Regions from separate parts of the Homo sapiens genome. Here region 2 is linked to region 1. The links come from fine-mapping of genetic effects on gene expression. Tissue or cell type: aorta. Region 1 holds a variant in brackets; the other region holds the start of a gene. All regions are shown on one strand. Distances are from middle to middle. Region 1 overlaps MALRD1 (MAM and LDL receptor class A domain containing 1). Region 2 holds the start of MALRD1-AS1 (MALRD1 antisense RNA 1).

What was found. PIP is the estimated chance that this variant, and not a neighbour inherited with it, causes the effect. A credible set is the group of variants that fine-mapping cannot tell apart.
Region 2: it holds the start of MALRD1-AS1, and the variant in region 1 is the best candidate, but not a certain one, in a credible set for the expression of MALRD1-AS1 in aorta (GTEx, PIP 0.62).

The regions. Positions count from the first base shown.
Region 1 is chr10:19,509,978-19,519,163 of GRCh38, reverse strand. The region is part of intron 31 of MALRD1 (MAM and LDL receptor class A domain containing 1); the gene reads right to left. Among named protein-coding and RNA genes, the nearest start is that of MALRD1-AS1, 210 kb to the left of the region's middle. RefSeq lists an enhancer at 8,348-8,915. The variant C/G (reference allele first, on the strand shown) is at 4,261.
Region 2 is chr10:19,724,820-19,734,005 of GRCh38, reverse strand. MALRD1-AS1 (MALRD1 antisense RNA 1) reads left to right here and starts at 5,456. Exons shown (of 5, transcript NR_120646.1): 1 at 5,456-5,601. MALRD1 (MAM and LDL receptor class A domain containing 1) reads right to left here. Exons shown (of 40, transcript NM_001142308.3): 39 at 3,225-3,300.

The sequences.
Region 1 (9,186 bases):
AGTATATACTGATGAAAAATTTTGACAATGAAAGAAAATTAGAACAAGTATATACATTTTTTTAAGTAATGGTAAACATGAAGAGGATATTTCTAGGGCAAGTCAAAGAAAAGACAGAAAAAGAGAGAAAGCTTTTAAAATAACCCGAGATACATTCATATATCATTAAAAAGTGAGATCCTGCATTACATACACCAAACAGCATTATAGGGATAATGCTGTCTAATTCATTGTAAAAGCAAAACATCTAAAGCAAATCAACTTTATGACTAGTGTTGCACTGGCAGTGCTGATGGTCATAATTTTCACTGTGGTTGTGAGTGATTCATGAATGGCAATTGCCACTAAAATTGAAACCAATTATGTAGTAAGCCAAAGTTTGTTCTATTTAGGAAGTTTCAGAACATGACTGTTAGTGAAACAACTAAACATTTTATTAAGAAAAGTACCTTTCTGCTGACAAAGATAATTGTATTTTAGTATTTATGAAAAAAAAAAATGTTCACACCATTACCTGAAAATGCAAAGCCTGTAACAATTAATACAAAATTTGGAAATAGAGATCTGGATGATTTTGTAGAGTGAATTATGAAGGCAACGTATGTCATTATAGAGATGTTATCACACTATCATAAATACTATCTCACAGGTCAGTAGAGACTCTGTAATTTCAAAAAATAATAAAATATCAACTTTGACATTATATAAGAAAAAGAAAATCATAAAAGATAAAGAAAATATAAAATTAAGAATGTCATTGGTTTTTCTCTATGGAAATTATAAAACAGAAATGATAATATCTGCACAATAATTCAGAAGACAGTTATTTATGGACACTGAAATTGCTGATATATTCAGATTGCCATGTTAATGTTGTTAAATTAAATTAGCAGGAGGCCATTAGTCTGAGGTTGTCTCTTTGAGTTTCTGCAAAACAAACTACAACCTAACTTAGTATGTACACAAACTATAATAAAACTTAGGAGTATAACAAACAACAGAGCTTCAGCTAATCATAAGCAGCTGTGTTTCAGCCAGTCACAGGCAGGCAACTAATGACAATATTCCGAAATAAGGCAGATGCCTAGCAGTATAGCCAATCAGGGGATTCCCTAAAGTGCTTCTGTGTTTGGCTCATAAAAACTTGCTCAAACTCAGGCAGAGCTCTCTGAACCTTTTCTGGTTCTGAGTGCTACCTGATTTATAAGTCATATCTGCAAAAATAAACTCTGCTAAATTTAATTTGTCTGAATTAACAGTTTGGTGTCAGAAGTGGGATGTGGAGGAAACCTCCCATGACCCTCAGAAGCACCAAGTGACCAAGCATTAAGTCCATTGCTCTCTTGCAACAAGTGAAGGCTGTGGGTGAGTTCTCTCTTAAATTTGAGCTCCTCAAATTTGTGTTTTGAGCTTCCTGATTTTATTCGAACAATTACTGGATATGACTGTGCCCAGGCTCATACTGAACTTCATAACAAAACTGGACTGGATCCAATAGGTAAGGTTACTACATAAAATTGTAGGTCATCTGTAACCAAGGTATCTAGAACTCCCCCATCTGGAACACCAGCTGATTTCATATATAAGAACTATGGACCTAGAATCTGTGTTTTTCTACAGAAATGGGTGAACTTTATCAAAGGTGACTTAGAGTTACATTGGCTACAGCGAGAAAACTCTTTAGAAAAGGCATGATGCATGTCTTTGTATCTATGGGACTAACAGGTCCTCCTTGTGTGTATTTTAAAACCCAAACTGAGAGATTTCAAACTAGAACCTCGTGCCCTGAGATTTTTGCCTTTATTGTAAACAGCCAGGCTATTGGAAAAGAAATTGCCCATGTTTTCACCAGCCATCTGATGAATGCACTCACATTGGCCTGGAATGTTTCCCTACTGGAGAAAGTACTTAAGGGCTTGACTCCCAGGACAATAACCAACCAGTCCCTCAGATAAAAAAGCATATTTCCAGGGTGGGAATTTCAAGTCAAGCCCCCAAAAGTCTACAGTCTTAATCTATCCAATTGATATTAGGATCATTTTCAGAAAAACGTTTGTTAGAATTAGTTCTGTTTTTCCTATTCAATCCTGCTTCAACCAGAGGAATTACTCGGTCAACTAAAACCCCTCGTCTCAAACCCCTGATGACATGAAAAGCCTTACTTTTGTTTTAAGTGCTTGTCATGGCCATCTTGTCTTAACTGGGCTTTTAGCTATGCCGTTCTTTCTTGGTTTAGGCAGACTACAGTATTTAAGCCTAAAGTTTAAGCTCTGTGACTTTAAGATGTAAAAATTTAACACTGTCTTCTGTAGGACCTCATAGATATCATTTTAAAATGCAAGTATAGAGAAAATGATAATGATGAAGGAGAAGGAGGAGAAGAGGGAGGAGAAGAAGGTGAAGGGGAAGAGAAAGAACAAGGAAGAAGGAAGAGGGAGGGAGGGAGGTAAGCAAGGGAGGGAGGGAGGAAGGGAGGGAGGAGATGAGGAGGAGGAAGAAGAGTAGGAAGAGGAAGAGGAGGAGGAGGAAGAGGAGGAGCAGGAGGAGGAGAAGATATTTGAAAATTGAACAAATGAAAAAATCTTAAAAGTTTCCCCACAAATATTAGTAGAATATTTAGTCATCTAGGAAAGCAATCTTGTTCCACGGACAAGAAAAAGAATTTGACTCTAAATCTTTAATAAATTAGTGAGTTTCATATTATTGTACTTGAAACACGGTTTAAATTTTCAAATAAAAGCTATAAGAAATGTTTCTCTGTATATATTTTTGTCTAATTGTCTATATGTTATGTATGTGTGGTATTTTTCTACCAGCTTACAGGATTGCCAAAATTAAATTGTAAAAGAGTTCTCTTACATTGGCTGAAAAAAATGAGCACTTGCATAAATTAGATATTCCTTAAACTCTAAGATAGAAACTAACACAAATTATTTTCAAATTTACATGATCTGGGATAGTCTTTGGTAAATAAAAGCTAATTAAAGTGTGTGAGTTTGATTAAAGCAGGTACATCTCCAGATTTCTCAACATTAGACATAATTCAGATGCACAACTTTTTCTACCTAGGTTTATTAGTAAAACAAGCTTATGTTATCTCTATATTAAAAAATTTGTCAGCAATGAAAATAACTTAAGACGATAGCTAGTTGTTTAACGTCTCATCTTCATAAGTAATCCAAGCATAATCATAAAAACAAGTGAATTAAATAGGTGTAAGTAATCTAAAATTCCCATGTGAATGATGTCCTTATACTAGCTGGTTCTAACGTTCTTATCAGCAAGAAGAGAAAGTTGGCCATGCACGGTGGCTCACGCCTGTAATCCGAGCTCTTTGGGAGGCCAAGGCAGGCAGATCACGAGGTCAAGAGATTGAGACCATCCTGGCTAACATGGTGAAACCCCATCTCTACTAAAAATACAAAAAAGAAAAAAAATTAGCCAGGCGTTGTAGCGGGTGCCTGTAGTCCCAGCTACTCGGGAGGCTGAGGCAGGAGAATGGCGTGAACCCGGGAGGCAGAGCTTGCAGTGAGCTAAGATCGGGCCACTGTGCTCCAGCCTGGGCAACAGAGCGAGACTCTGTCTCAAAAAAAATAAATAAATAAAAATTAAAAAAAAGAGAAAGTTGAGGCTACGGGAAATCTGTACAAACAACAAGTTAAAGTGACCTACTAAAAGAAAACCTTGAAAGGACAGAGATAAAATTTTGCCTCTTCTACAGTTTCTCATTACAGGACTAAAGATGGTTTAAACTGTTAGTACACATGTTCTGTGTCATACCAAAAAAAGTGTACTATGAAAAAGTACATATTTCTAGAAATTATGATTCATAGATTTGCCAATCTACAGGAAGCTGGTGTGATATAGCTCAGTTGTTTGCTTCCTAGTGTTCCCTGTAAATTAAGGTCACTAAGAGTTCATTATTTGAATTCATACATGTAACTAAAATTACTAGAAATAATTAGAAAAACCATTCTAAATCCAAGTATATAAAGATGGTAAGCTATGCTTTTGGTAAGAAAAGCTATAAAGTATAAAGTTGTGTTTTTGTTGTTTGTTAAGTAAAAAAGATTTTTTTTTTTGTCCTAAAGCATAAGAAATGGCTGTTTCAAAATGGGAAAAAGAAAAAAGTATAAAACAAACACTGAATGGACATAAGGGTATTGTAGATGGAATGGACAGATATTTTATGTGTGATCAAACTGGCTGCAATTAGAAGGGAATTATTTTTAAGTCTTCCAAAAAAATAAGCATTTATAT[C/G]AAAAGTACACTGATACAAAACAAGAATTTGATCCTCTATGTTAAAACAACAAGGTTTTCTTGGAGTATTGGTCTGCCTTTAGTAGAAAATTGTAAAAGGCTTTCCTTTTAGATAATTGACCTAGGAAACAAATATTCTGTGTTTTATCAAGATAATTTCCTACACTTCATGCAGTCTGTATGGGATCTTTCATTTCTTAAGAAAAGTGAGTTCTGTTTATTAAATGAACTAAGGTTTTTCTTTCCTATAACTATGTACCTTTCTGTATTTGTCTTTAAATATTTTAATTATCACTCTAGTTAAATGAGTAAGCATTGTTTCACATTGCCCTGTAATCCTATTTTAATCAAGTATTCAAAACCTCTTATTTTTCAAGACTTCCCAAAATCAAAGTCTAAATTAGGATCTTTTGACGTTGAACTAACTTAGGGAGTTTTCCTACAGGCCATAGAAATATCTCAAAAGAATTTTTTTCTTTCTCTTGATTAAAAGAGAGGTGTAAAACTAATTAGGCTTATCTAACATGTTAAATGGCATGGGAAACATTGTCAAATAATAAGTGATACTAAACCTTATTTCAATTATATTGTATGATATGTTATTAATATGTGTTTGAGAAATTATATAAAATTCCAAGGAAACTGATGGTTGTAGTATAATGCTGTCAGTCATAATTCTAGTTATTACCTTAAATTATTTTATGTTGCAAAAACAAAATTTTCTTGCCAGTTGCACTATAATAAACTGTAATAAGATCTTTAAGCCATGGCCATTTTAAGTCTTGTCATCTGTAGATAGTTCATTGTTTTATTCTGTTAGGTTCCTGAAAGCTATTACAAACAGCTGTAAGCCTAAAATATTTTATCTTTCAGGGGATTCACGGAAAGGACTCTAACAAGTACAGGTTTCTGGTAACTTTAAGATCCCATCATTTGACTAGGTAAGAATTCTCAGAATTTTAATGAAGAAACTGATTGGCACCTAAATTGCTAACCCAATATCTAGTAGAACAAGAATTAATTAATTGAATGCCAAGAAAATGCTGTTGCAGATTCTCGTGGTTAAGTCAGCCAATACTGAAATTGTTAAGATACTGTGTTAGTTAATTCTGCATTGCTATAAAGGAGTACCTTAGGTTGGATAATTTTTTTTTTCTTTTCTTTTGAGATGGAGTCTTGCTCTTTCACCCAGGTTGGAGTACAGTGGCCCAATCTCAGCTCACTGCAACCGCCGCCTCCCGGGTTCACACCATTCTCCTGCCTCAGCCTCCCGAGTAGCTGGGGCTACAGGCACCCGCTACCACGCCTGGCTAATTTTTTGTATTTTTAGTAGAGACGGGGTTTCCCTGTGTTAGCCAGGATGGTCTCAATCTCCTGACCTCGTGATCCGCCCGCCTCGGCCTCCCAAAGTGCTGAGATTACAGGCGTGAGCCACCACGCCCGGCCAGGTTGGATAATTTTCAAAAAAAAAAAAAAAAGAGATTTATTTGGCTCATGGTTCTGCAAGCTGTATAAGCATGGCACCAGTATCTGCTTGGCTTCTGGTGAGGCCTCAGGAAGCTTATGGTCATGAAAGAAGGAAAAAGGGAACCTGTTAGATCACGTAGTGAGAAAGGAAGCAAGAGAGTGAAGGGGGAGGTCTACACACATTTTAACAATGAGTTCTCATGTGGACTCATTACCAGAGATGGAGCACCATGCCGTTCATGAGGAATCCATCCTCATGACCCAAGCACCTCTCACTAGGTCCCATCTCCAACACTGGGGATTACCTTTTAACATGAGATTTGGAGGGGACAAATATACAAACCATATCATATATGCAATTTAAGTGAACACAGTAAGATTGACCCAACTCAAATTATCTATGACAACCTATTTAATAAACAGTGCTACACACCTGAAATGAAGAAACAAATGTGTTATTTAAAATTAAGTAAATTCGATGTTAATTGTACACCCATGGAGGACCCAGATGACCACTTCGTCCTTCCTGAGTCCTTAAATCTTCCATTATTTAAAACTATGCACTCCATGAATCATTATGGAAATTTCAAAATGACTTAAATTATGAAAAAAAAATCTTGGAGTGACTAGTCTAAAATTGCTAAAATGGTTTGTAAGCATTTTTTGGTTTGTCAAATCCATAATTCTGGGAAGACAACCAAGTCTTTAGGCGCTGCATTTCTACCTATAAATCATTTAAAATTTTACAAATGGATTTAACTCAATTGCCACCTTCAATGGGATATCAATGTGTTCTTGTAGTTTGTATGTTTCCTGGTTAGACAGAAGCTTTCCTGTATAGGAAAGCCAATGCTATGACAGTAACTAAGAGGTTATTATAAATGTTTTTCTTTTATGGGGTATTCTTGAAGAAATTTCCAGTGATGGAGGCACTCATTTCACTGGGCAAATCATCAAACAGTTAAATAAGATATTACAAACACAATGGCATTATGCAAAACTAACTGAATAGACTGGATTGCCTTGGGCAAATGTATTACTGCTGTCCTTGATGGCAATAATATCTATTCTCCCTGGAAAGCACCAATTATGAAATCTTATCAAATAGTCACTGAGGCCTTTGCCCATAACAATAGAGCTGCCTGTATCTCCTGTTCTTATAAATGATGAAATATTGCCAAGCTTTAATGTATTATGCCAGAGTATATGTTTACCATGTAAAAAAAGCCCTTTGTTACCCACCAACTGATGATAACCACATTTTTCATGATCTAGGGCACAGAATGGCTCTTTTGGAAGTGACACTAGAGAAAGACTGCCCCTGAGCCCCACTGGAGAGAATGATACCAAGCTCTTTTAAGCAATCATACTGCAGCAAAACTTTATAACCTTCAGTCTTGGCTCCCTATCTCTCAACTCAAGAGGACTCCTCCAAGACTGCACATCTTTTGGAGACCTCAAGGCAAAACTGACCAAGGAGATTTCTCTTCAGAAGAAGATGACATCCTAGATGTGGCCAACTTTCCCCAAAACAAGGATCAAAACTTCTCCCCTCTCTCATTATGAAAACTTTGTCTTTTTTATTTTTTCTCTGTGTTTCTTTTCTGTTTACAAATGGTGAGATAATGCCAAAATCAAGATTTCATAGTTGATAACTTCTGCAGAAAACCTAACTGAATGTTGACTATGTCATGTTAAACCAATATCCCTACATGATCTTAGAGATCCTCTAGTTCACCCTGAAACAAAAGTTACTGATATTCCAAATGTGACCATTTTCTCATATTGCAGGTTTGATTCTTCTATAGGGTTAGACTTTTAGATTCACATATTCATATTCCTTGTTTAAAGCTAACAGTAGGCAAAACATATAATGAGGGTTTTGCAGTTAATTATGCCAGAAATTGAATAAGAACAACAAAAAATAGTTTGGCATTTTGTAGACAAATATATAACCCTAATTGTTGATGGGCTCTAACCATGCTATGATTTGATAATAAAGCCTTGGATAAATTTTAGTGCTTTCCTACTAGTGACCCTTAAATCACAAGACATCTTAAAGGGAACTGTCTGTTGTGGCTCTTGAAGATATATTTTTATTTGTAGAGAATTTAAAGATCAGCCGTGTGCTGATCTTTTTGACTCCATGTCTCAAAAAGAGGCCAATGTGGGTTAGGCATTTTAACGGCACCACTCACTCCATAATCAACTGGAAACTGATCATTGATCTATACAATTCAATTTTCAATGTAAAATAAATAAGATTTTTTCTAGCTGTAAATGAGCATCTTTGGGTAGAACACTCCTTTCCTGGCTTGGCATAAATATAATAAAGTTATGGTTAGAAATCAGTCTCAAATACTAACTGATATAGCTGACTATATTGCAAAGGCTATGGCTGCCCAGTACATTTCTTTAAATTCTCTTGATAAGGTTGTTTTAGATAGCAAGATTGTTTTGGACTACCTGTTGGCTGAACAGCGGGGAGTGTCTACAGTAGCTAACACCTCTTGCTGCACACGGATAAATACATCTGGTATAGAAACTAATCTGCAAGAATTCAGCAAACAAGCTATTTGGTTAAAACAAGTAGATTCCACTTCTGGTTTATTTTTTGATTTATTTGATTTTAATTCATATGATTCTTAGGGCTCCTGCTATGGAGTAAACAATATGGGGAAAAGAAAGAGAGATCAGACTGTTACTGTGTCTATGTAGAAAGAAGTAGACATAAGAGACTCCATTTTGTTCTGTACTAAGAAAAATTCTTCTGCCTTGAGATGCTGTTAATCTGTAACCCTACCCTCAACCCTGTGCTCGCAGAAACATGTGCTGTGTCGACTCAAGGTTTAATGGATTTAGGGCTATGCAGGATGTGCTTTGTTAAACAAATGCTTGAAGGCAGCATGCTTGTTAAAAGTCATCACCACTCCCTACTCTCAAGTACCCAGGGACATAAAACACTGCGGAAGGCTGCAGGGAACTCTGCCTAGGAAAGCCAGGTATTGTCCAAGGTTTCTCCCCATGTGATAGTCTGAAATATGGCCTTGTGGGAAGGGAAAGACCTGACCATCCCCCAGCCCGACACCTGTAAAGGGTCTGTGCTGAGGAGGATTAGTAAAAGAGGAAAGCCTCTTTGCAGTTGAGGTAAGAGGAAGGCATCTGTCTCCTGCTCCTCCCTTGGCAATGGAATGTCTCAGTGTAAAACTCGATTGTATATTCCATCTACTGAGATAGCAGAAAACTGCCTTAGGGCTGGAGGTGAGACATGCTGGCTCTTTAAGGCATTGAGATGTTTACGTACGTGCACATCAAAAGCACAGCACCTTTTCCTTTACCTTGTTTATGATGCAGAGACATTTGTTCACGTTTTCCTGCTGACCCTCTCTCCACTATTACCCTATTGTCCTGCCACATCCCCCTCTCCAAGATGGTAGAGATAATGATCAATAAATACTG
Region 2 (9,186 bases), 210 kb before region 1:
GCCCACACTGCTTGAGTTTCTGACACAAGCCTAGATTCCATGTATCCTGGGGTCCTCAGGACTTAGGCACCACTGCCTCACCTCTGGTCGGGTGGGGAAATGCAATGACCAATATTTCGACTACTGCTTTCTCTGGTGCTGGTTTCACTAAGCCTTCTGTATTGAATATAGTTAGGTTAGACAAAACAAAACAAAACCAATGCCTTTAAGTAAATAAAAGCATTTTATATAAGTTTAAATGCCATTTCATTTAAGTTTCCTGTAAACTATAATTATATATATTATATATATATATAATATAAAACGTGGGAAATTCTATAGGACAAGCAATCTGGTTTCTTCAACAAATAATGTGCAAGAAAAAAAAATAAGACAGAATGGAACCTAGAGATGAAAAGAGATTTAAGAGCCATATCTACCCATTTGGATGCATATACCTTCTAAAATTTCTGATTTTTAAAATATAGCAACAACACAAAACCCCAAAAGAAAACCTTTTAGGTTTTAATGAGACAATTGGGGTAGGATGAATACTGAATGTTTGATGGCCTCAAGACATTCTTGTTAAATGTTTAGGGATGATCCTGCAGTTACATTTTTAAAAGTCCTTGTCCTTTAAAAACACAACTGAAGTCTTTACAGTTGAAATTAAATGATATTTGAAATTTGTTTGAAAACCTTCTGGAGGGTGAGGAAATGGAGGGCAGTAGAGGTGAAACAACAATGACCATGGGTTGACAGTCCTTGAAGCTGGCTGATGGGCACGTGGCAGTTGCTTACAATGAATATTGCCATGAATATTGGCATGAATTGCCAACGAATGTTGCCATGAATATTCTCTCCATTTCTGTATCAGAATGTGAGAGTTTTCTCCAATAATTTAAAACATAGTTTGAAAGATAGACTTAGAGAAGTCTATCTTTCTGATGATGGGGAAAGTAGACCTAGTTTAATCAATACAAAGTCATTTGTTTCTGAAACAATAGAAATCAAAATAGCCACAAAGGTCAGGAGATGTGCCAGGATTTCTTCTTTAGCCATTCATAATGAAAGGAAAACAGAAAATGAAAAAGGAATTTTTCTTTTATCGAAATAGAAAATAAACATAAATCACTTCTGAGGTGCTCTCAAGTCATCCATTACACCACCACACTCACACACAGTGGAAACCATTTTGAAAGCAGGTTGAAAGGTGGGTCTTTGATGGAGGCCCCTTCCTGTACTTGCTGAGAAGTACAAATCTGAATGCAACAGAATCCATCTCAGTAGAAAGTAAAGAATCCATAATACCTATCGAGCCACTTTTTAGTTACTACAAGTTTATGAGGCACTAATACAAAAAACATAAAATTGAAAAGATCTCACTTTAATTCCTTATCTCATGTGTACCTTTCAGACACTAAAAGTTAAACTAAGCTGAGGATAAAAAATATTAAATGTTCTGGCCAGGTACAGTGGCTCACGCCTGTAATGCCAGCACTTTGGGAGGCCAAGGAAGGCGGATCACCTAAGGTCAGGAGTTTGAGATCAGCCTGGCCAACATGATGAAACCCTGTCTCTACTAAAAATACAAAAATTAGCTGGGCATGGTGGCAGGCGCCTCTAATCCCAGCTACTCAGGAGGCTGAGGCAGGAGAATCACTTGAACCCAGGAGGTGGAGGTTGCAGTGAGTCGAGATCACACCATTGCACTCCAGCCTGGGTGGCAAGAGTGAAACTCCGTCTCAAAAAATAAATAAATAATAGATTTTCTTTCTCCAGTAAAAATGAAAATATATTTATATTACACCATCCTATTTTGTCAAAAAGATATATTACATTTGTTTTCTTAAATGTGTATGTGTTTTTTTATCCATGAAGTAGGTCTCCCTTTTCATTTTTACTCTGTCTTGATTTACTTGTCGAATCATCTAAATTCATTTTCTCTGTGCTTTAGGAAATCATTTACTTCCCGTTTTCATTCCTACCAAAACAATACTAAAAGTGTGTATCATATCATTATTGATTAAAACACAAAAATTAAAAAGTCAAGTGCTTTGTTAGGCTTCGGCCACAGCACTCAAGGCTCTTAAACTACCAGAAACCACCTGACCTGATACCTTGCTACTCATTTTCATAACCAGGAACAAGATAAAAAACTGTGACCTATTTTCATAAAGAAAGAGAATAATTAAAACTTTAGCTTTCTATAATACTCATTTTATAAGGAGTGAATTTTATATAGCTCTAAACTCAGATGTAATAAAACTTTTACAGTTCGGAAGTGGTGTGTCATAACTAAACTTACTTTATATCCAGATGAATTCTCATAACACTTACTTAAGAAAGGAATGGGAAAATAAAAAGAAAGGAATGAGATATTGATCAAAGAGTGCAAAGTTTTTGTGCAGGATGTATAAATTCTGGGGATCTAATGTATAGCATGTGACTATAATAATGTGTGATATACTCAAAATTTGCTAAGAGAGATCCTAAATGTTTTCAGCACACACACACACACACACACACACACAAAGTAAACTATGTGAGGTGATAGATATTTTAAATAGTTTCATTGTAGTAATCACTTCACAATGTATACCTATAGTAAAATATAATGTATACCTTAAACATATAAAAGTTTTGTCAACTATACCTAAAAATGACTTAAAATATAAAAAATCTAAAAAAGGAACAAGAAAGGTTTTCCTTGCCATTTTCTCCCTGCTTATAAAAATAAGGGGTAGCCCCAAAAAGGGCCAAGGAAGATGTAATACATTCTCATTTGTTTTTTCTCTTCTAAGTTATCAGGTAATGGCCCTCACTAGTCACCCTAAATTTAAACAGAACATAGAATGCTATCCTCTCTTTTGTTTTTGAAAATAAAATATGAAAGACATTCAATGAATAGTTACTGTAAGCAGCTGACTAATACTCTGTGGGTTAAACTGATATTTCCCAGATTTTTCAGCTCTTTTTGAGTATAAATAGTGACCACAACACCATTTAACAGTGAAGTGATCTTACAAGCAGACTGAAACTGTCCTGAAATGGACAATTCTCACAGCATATTTATAGAGATGGAAACTCCTTTCTATCCCCAATTGAAATAACTCCACTAAAACATTTCTTTTAGTTATGATGTAGAAACATGATCAAGCAACACTGGTTCAGCCTGTGTGTGTGTGTGTGTTTGTATGTGTGTGCATATGTGTGAAAAGATATAGTTCACCCTTGCCACTTACCTCTGTTTTCTCTGGGTTGCTCCAGTTCCCGTAAACTGGATTGACAAAGGCACAGTTACCACTTCCCTCGGTTTTCCTTAAAGCACACAGGGCCATCAAAAATAAAAAACTATTGACATTTACCATAGTACATTTTCAGGTTATTGTTTGTTAGAAACTTTTGAGAGACATGTTGTCTAGCCAGCACACTTATTTTCATGAATGTATTACCATAAGTAAAGTTTGTTTTTTATTTTTTATTTTTTGCAGGACACCAAGGCAACCACATTCAGGAAAGCAAATGTAATTTGAACTCTGAGTGTTTAGATCCAAATAAACTCAGGCAAATAAAAGAAATTGCAAAAGTTAGTCTTAATGTTGATTTCTTAAAATATTACTCAGTGCAAAGTGTCCAACATTAGAAAGAACAATGTAATATGAAGCTGTACTAGTGATAAAGAAAGGCCATCTTGAAGTCCTTTACACTGCACAGTGCCAAACCACTACATCCTGAAGACTGTTTTCCATGACAGTATCTGTCATAAAGATCTGTAGCACATGAGTCATAGTCTTTAACATTTTAATCAGCAAATTTAAATACAACTGTTTTGAAAAGTTCTTTAGGGTAGTGTTTCATGAAACTCAAAAACAGCAAGCCCTTGGTAATATCACATATTGGACTACATGTGCATAATTCACTATAATTAACTGGGCTCCATATGATTATTTTCCTTTTATACTTTACTTAAGAATTAATAGACTTATAGGCCGGGCGTGGTGGCTCACGCCTGTAATCCCAGCACTTCGGGAGGCCGAGGCGGGCGGATCACGAGGTCAGGAGATCGAGACCATCCTGGCTAACACGGTGAAACCCCGTCTCTACTGAAAATACAAAAAAATTAGCCGGGCGTGGTGGCGGGCGCCTGTAGTCCCAGCTACTTGGGAGGCTGAGGCAGGAGAATGGCGTGAACCCGGGAGGCGGAGCTTGCAGTGAGCCGAGATCGCGCCACTGCACTCCAGCCTGGGCCACAGAGCGAGACTCCGTCTCAAAAAAAAAAAAAAAAAAAAAAAAAAAAAAAAAGAATTAATAGACTTATTAGAAGACACGCAGCCCTGGACTACTTGGTGACAACTGATGAAGAAAAAATGTCCATCGTAGGAACAAAAAAAAGTAACCAAGAACTAAATACACACACACACACACACACACGAAAGGATCCTATACACACATGTGTACACACACACACACATAAGAAAGGATCCTATACATGCATGTGTACACACACACACACACACAATGGAGAATGGAAGACCAATTCCAGGATGATTGTTTTAAGAGCTTAATGACACGAGTAACAAATATATAATGTATGATAATTGTATAACACAATGTATAATGTATGTATAATGTATATTTTTTGCCTATTCAGGATACAGTGAAAATTAATGTTTGTCAGTAATATAATTCTAAATCCCAAAATAAAATGTAGCAAGAAGGGGGCTCTTACTGATTTGATTTCTGAAAACAAATTGCCATAGGCATAACTGCCTATTGTCATCTACCAAACCACATGGTCCTTTTCAAAGAAACTGCAGCATCAGTGAGCCTAACAGTCTAATCTAGCTAATTATGTTTGGCTGGCAATACATTGTCCCTGTGGATTCAGTGTCTTTTAAGCTTCCTGATCTCCACTGGCTTAAATATACAATAGATTAAATGTTTCACCCTCACCGCGGGTACATTTTGCTTATTGATGAATAGGGCCATATGCATCTATTTTGTGGGTTATTATTGAAAAAAGTCTGAATTGAGTCAACAAATATCTGTTAATTCCTTAAGCACTAATTGAATGCTTATTAGTTGCTCTGATTAATTTGAGTAAGTTGTGTTTGACTCTTTGCCTTTACTTTATTCAAGACTAGTCTATGTTAAATTCTCGGAGTAGTAATCTCAGTACATAGCATGGTTAGTGCATGAACTGAGCCAGGGATGATCTTGGAGTTGAGATTGGGTAGGGAGTGAAGTGTAGTTTTGAAATGCATCAAAATACCAAAGCAGGAAAAATTGGACATGGAAGTAGGGATGATCAAAACATAATAGAAATTAGGAACTAAGTAAAGATAAGACAGACACTGACACCAAGAGCTCAGAAAAATTAAGAGGCTGAAATCAGGCATGAAATCAGGAAGCAGGAGGAAACCCAAACCACAGGGCTAGACAGGACAGATGGTCAAAGCCTGAGCATACAACCAGGAGCTGAAGGGACCAGCTTGGCCGTCAGTTGCAAGGGTGTGAGGCAGAAGCAACACAAAAGATCTTGATATGAAGCAATTATTTTTGGTCTTAAACTGCTGGGACTCCAGATGACCCAGACCACGGTCAGCAGGCAGAAGCCAGGTAAATTTATATAATTCTCAGCTCTGTTAATTCAATTATTGAAGCTACTTGTCTTCTGAAAGGGTTTTAAGTCTGAAATAATTTTCTATTAAAATGAAAAAACATTTGAAGGTGTCTGGCCTTCAAGATTTGGGTAACTACAAAGAAGGAAGATGATATTTAAGAGTAAGGATGTGGAGTTGTAATAAAAGAAGAAAGGGTTTCAGTGTGAGTATTGGAAGGTGAGGAATGGCAAATCCTTCCTACTTCAACTTTTGTTTTTTAGTAGTCTCAAATTGCTTTTATTTTTCCTAGATTAAAGATATATCTCCCATTCTTGAAAATCCCTGGACTATTAGACTTAAATTTTAATGTCTTTCCTATTTATTTATAAGGTAAACTATTACACCGTCCACAGATTCTTCCATGAAGGAAATTGCTAGTGTCACTCTATACATTTAGTATTTCAAGTTCAATATTATGATTTTCCATTTTCATCAACTATGTCAATTTGACATTCAAACACAGGCAATTTTACTTAAAATGGTGGATCCTTACATGAGGGAAATAAAATGTTTGTTTCATTATAAAGTTTCCTGCCAGTTCTGAAACTCAATGGTGTAATGATGAGTCTTCATCAGGCCAAAAAAAAAAAAATGCAATGTTTGACTTACTGTATTTGTCAATATGCCGGTAGCTCTTAAGCAGTTGATTTTTTTTCCCCCAATGAATAAGTGAGTTGTAAGAATTGAGGTTCTAAAGAATATAACCACCTCTAGGAATAATGATGATAAAGGAACTGACTTAGAAATTTTGAGTAGAGGAAAGGAAGTTGCATGGATCATATAAGTTTTTCTCCCTTATCATGCATTCATATAAATTATTATTAAGTTTATCTTATATCCATTACGTGCAGATACTGTGCGAAGTGGCATTCTGAATGTGTGACAAGAGACCTAGATCAATGCAGAACTAAGATAATTCTGATGGCAGTTTCCAATTTTAATTTAGCGAGCATATTTATACTTCTAATGGAATTCACTTATTAACTGACAACATTGTTTTAGTGTTGATAAAAGCATGGAAGTGTTTATAATAGTCTGAAACTATTACAAATGGGAAAGGAGAAAAAAAGAATAAAACAAAAACCAATCTATGTTACATCCAGTAAACATGACTTCGAGGTGAATATTTTGTATTTTTATTTTTAACAGCTTTATGGAGCTATAAATCACATGCCATACAATTCACAAACTTAAAGTACACAATTCAATGGTTTTCAGTAATGTTACTTTTATTAATTTTTAATTTTTAAAACAGTGGTATATATCACATAAAATTTGCCATTTTAACCATTTCAAGTATACAATTCAATGCCATTAATTCCACTCACAGTGTTGTGCTACCATTACCACTATTTCCAAAATGTTTTTATAACTCTGAACTGAAGCTCCATGGCCAGTGAGCATTAACACCCCATTCCCCTCCAACCAATCCCAGGTAAATTCTGATTTACCTTCTGTCTTTATGAGACTCGAGGTACCTCACCTAAGTGGAATCATACAGTATTTGTCCTTTTGTGTTTGGCTTATTTCACTTAGCATAATGTTTTCAAGATTCATCCATATTGTAGTATGTATCAGAAGTTTAATCATTTTTATTGCTGAATAATATTCCCTTGCATGTATATGTCACATTTTGTTTATTCATTCACCTGTTGATGGAAATTTGGGTAGTTTCCATCTTTTCACTATTGTGAATACTGCTATGGGGAACATTGCTGCATGAATATCTGTTTAAGTCTCTATTTTGATTCTTCGAGGTATATAACTAGGAGTTGAATTGATAGAACACACGGTAACTCTTTTTTAACTTTTGAGGAACTGCCAAACTGTTTTTGATAGTGCTGCACCATCTTACATTCCCACCAACAATGTGTGAGGGTTTCTATTTCTCCTCATCCTCATCAACACTTGTTATTTTCAGTTTTTAAATTATTATTATTATTGCTATCTCAGTGGATGTGAATTGGTATGTAATTGTGGTACTGATTTTCATTTCCCTAATGACTAGTGATGTTGAACATCTTTTTATGTTCAACTATATGTAATCTTCTTTGAAGAAATGACTATTCTAGTCCTTTGCCCATTTTGAAATTGGGTTGTCTTTTTGTTCTTAAGTTGTATGGATTTTTATATATTCTGGATATTAAACTTTTATCAGATACGTACTTTTGAATATTTTCTACCATTTTGTAGATTGTCTTTTCACTTTCTTGATAATGTCTTTTGTTGCACAAAAGTTTTTGATTTTGATAAAGTCCAATTTACTTATTTATTTTTTGTTGTTGCTTGTGCTTTTGGTGTCATATTTAAGAAAGAATCAATTTCCAAATCCAAGATCATGAAGATTTACCACTATGTTTTCTTTTAAATGCATTATGGCTTTTGCTCTTACATGTAGCTCCTTGATCCATTTTGAGCTAATTTCTGTATGTGGTGTGAAGTAGGGGGTCCATCTGCATTCTTTTGCATTGCAAAATCCAGTTGTCCCAATATCATCTACTGAAGAGACTATTTGATCCCCATTGGATGGACTTGGCATTGTTGTCAAGCATCAATTCATGACAGATGTATAGGATTATATTTGAATTTTCAATTCAGTTCAATTCAATTGATCTATATGTCTGTTCTCATGCCTCATGCCGATACCACACTGTTTTGTTTACTGTACTTTTGTAGTAAATTCTGAAATTTGGAAGTTTGAGTTCTCCAACATTGTTTTGGCTATTTGGTACCCTTGCAATTTATAAATTTGAGAAGAGGTTTTTCACTTTTGCAAAAATGGCTGTTGGAATTTTCGATAGAGATTGCCTTGAATCTGCAGGTTGCTGTATTAGTCTGTTCTCATGCTGCTGTGAAGAAATACCTGAGCCTGGGTAATTTATAAAGGAAAGAGGTTTAATTGACTCACAGTTCCACAGGCCTGGGGAGGCCTCAGGTAACTTACAATCATGGCAGAAGGGGAAGCAAATATGCCCTTCTTCACACAGTGGCAGCCAGAAGTGCAGAGCAAAAGCCGGAAAAGCCCCGTCTAAAGCCATCAGACCTTGTGAGAACTTACTCACTATCCTGAGAATAGCAGCATGAGGGTAACCACCCCCATGCTTAGATTACCTCCCACTAGGTCCCTCCCACGGCTTGTGGGGATTATGGAAACTAGAATTCAAGATGAGATTTGGGTGGGGACATGGAGCCAAACCATATGAGTTGCTTTAGTTAGTATTAACGTCTCGACAATATTGTCCTCCTTTCCATGAACTTAGTGTGTCATTCCATTTAGTTAGGTCTTATTTAATTTCTTTCAATAATGCTTTGTGATTTTAAGTGTATAAATCTTTCACCTCATTGGTTAAATTTATTCCCAGGTATTTTATTCTTTTAGATGCTATTGTCAACAGAATTGCCTTCAAGATTCCTTTTCTGATTGTTCATTGCTGGTATGTAGTAATACAACTGATTTTTAAGTGTTGCTCTTATACCTTGTAACTTCTCTGAATTTGTTTATTTGCTCTAGTAGCTTTCTTGTGGATTCTTTGAGATTGCT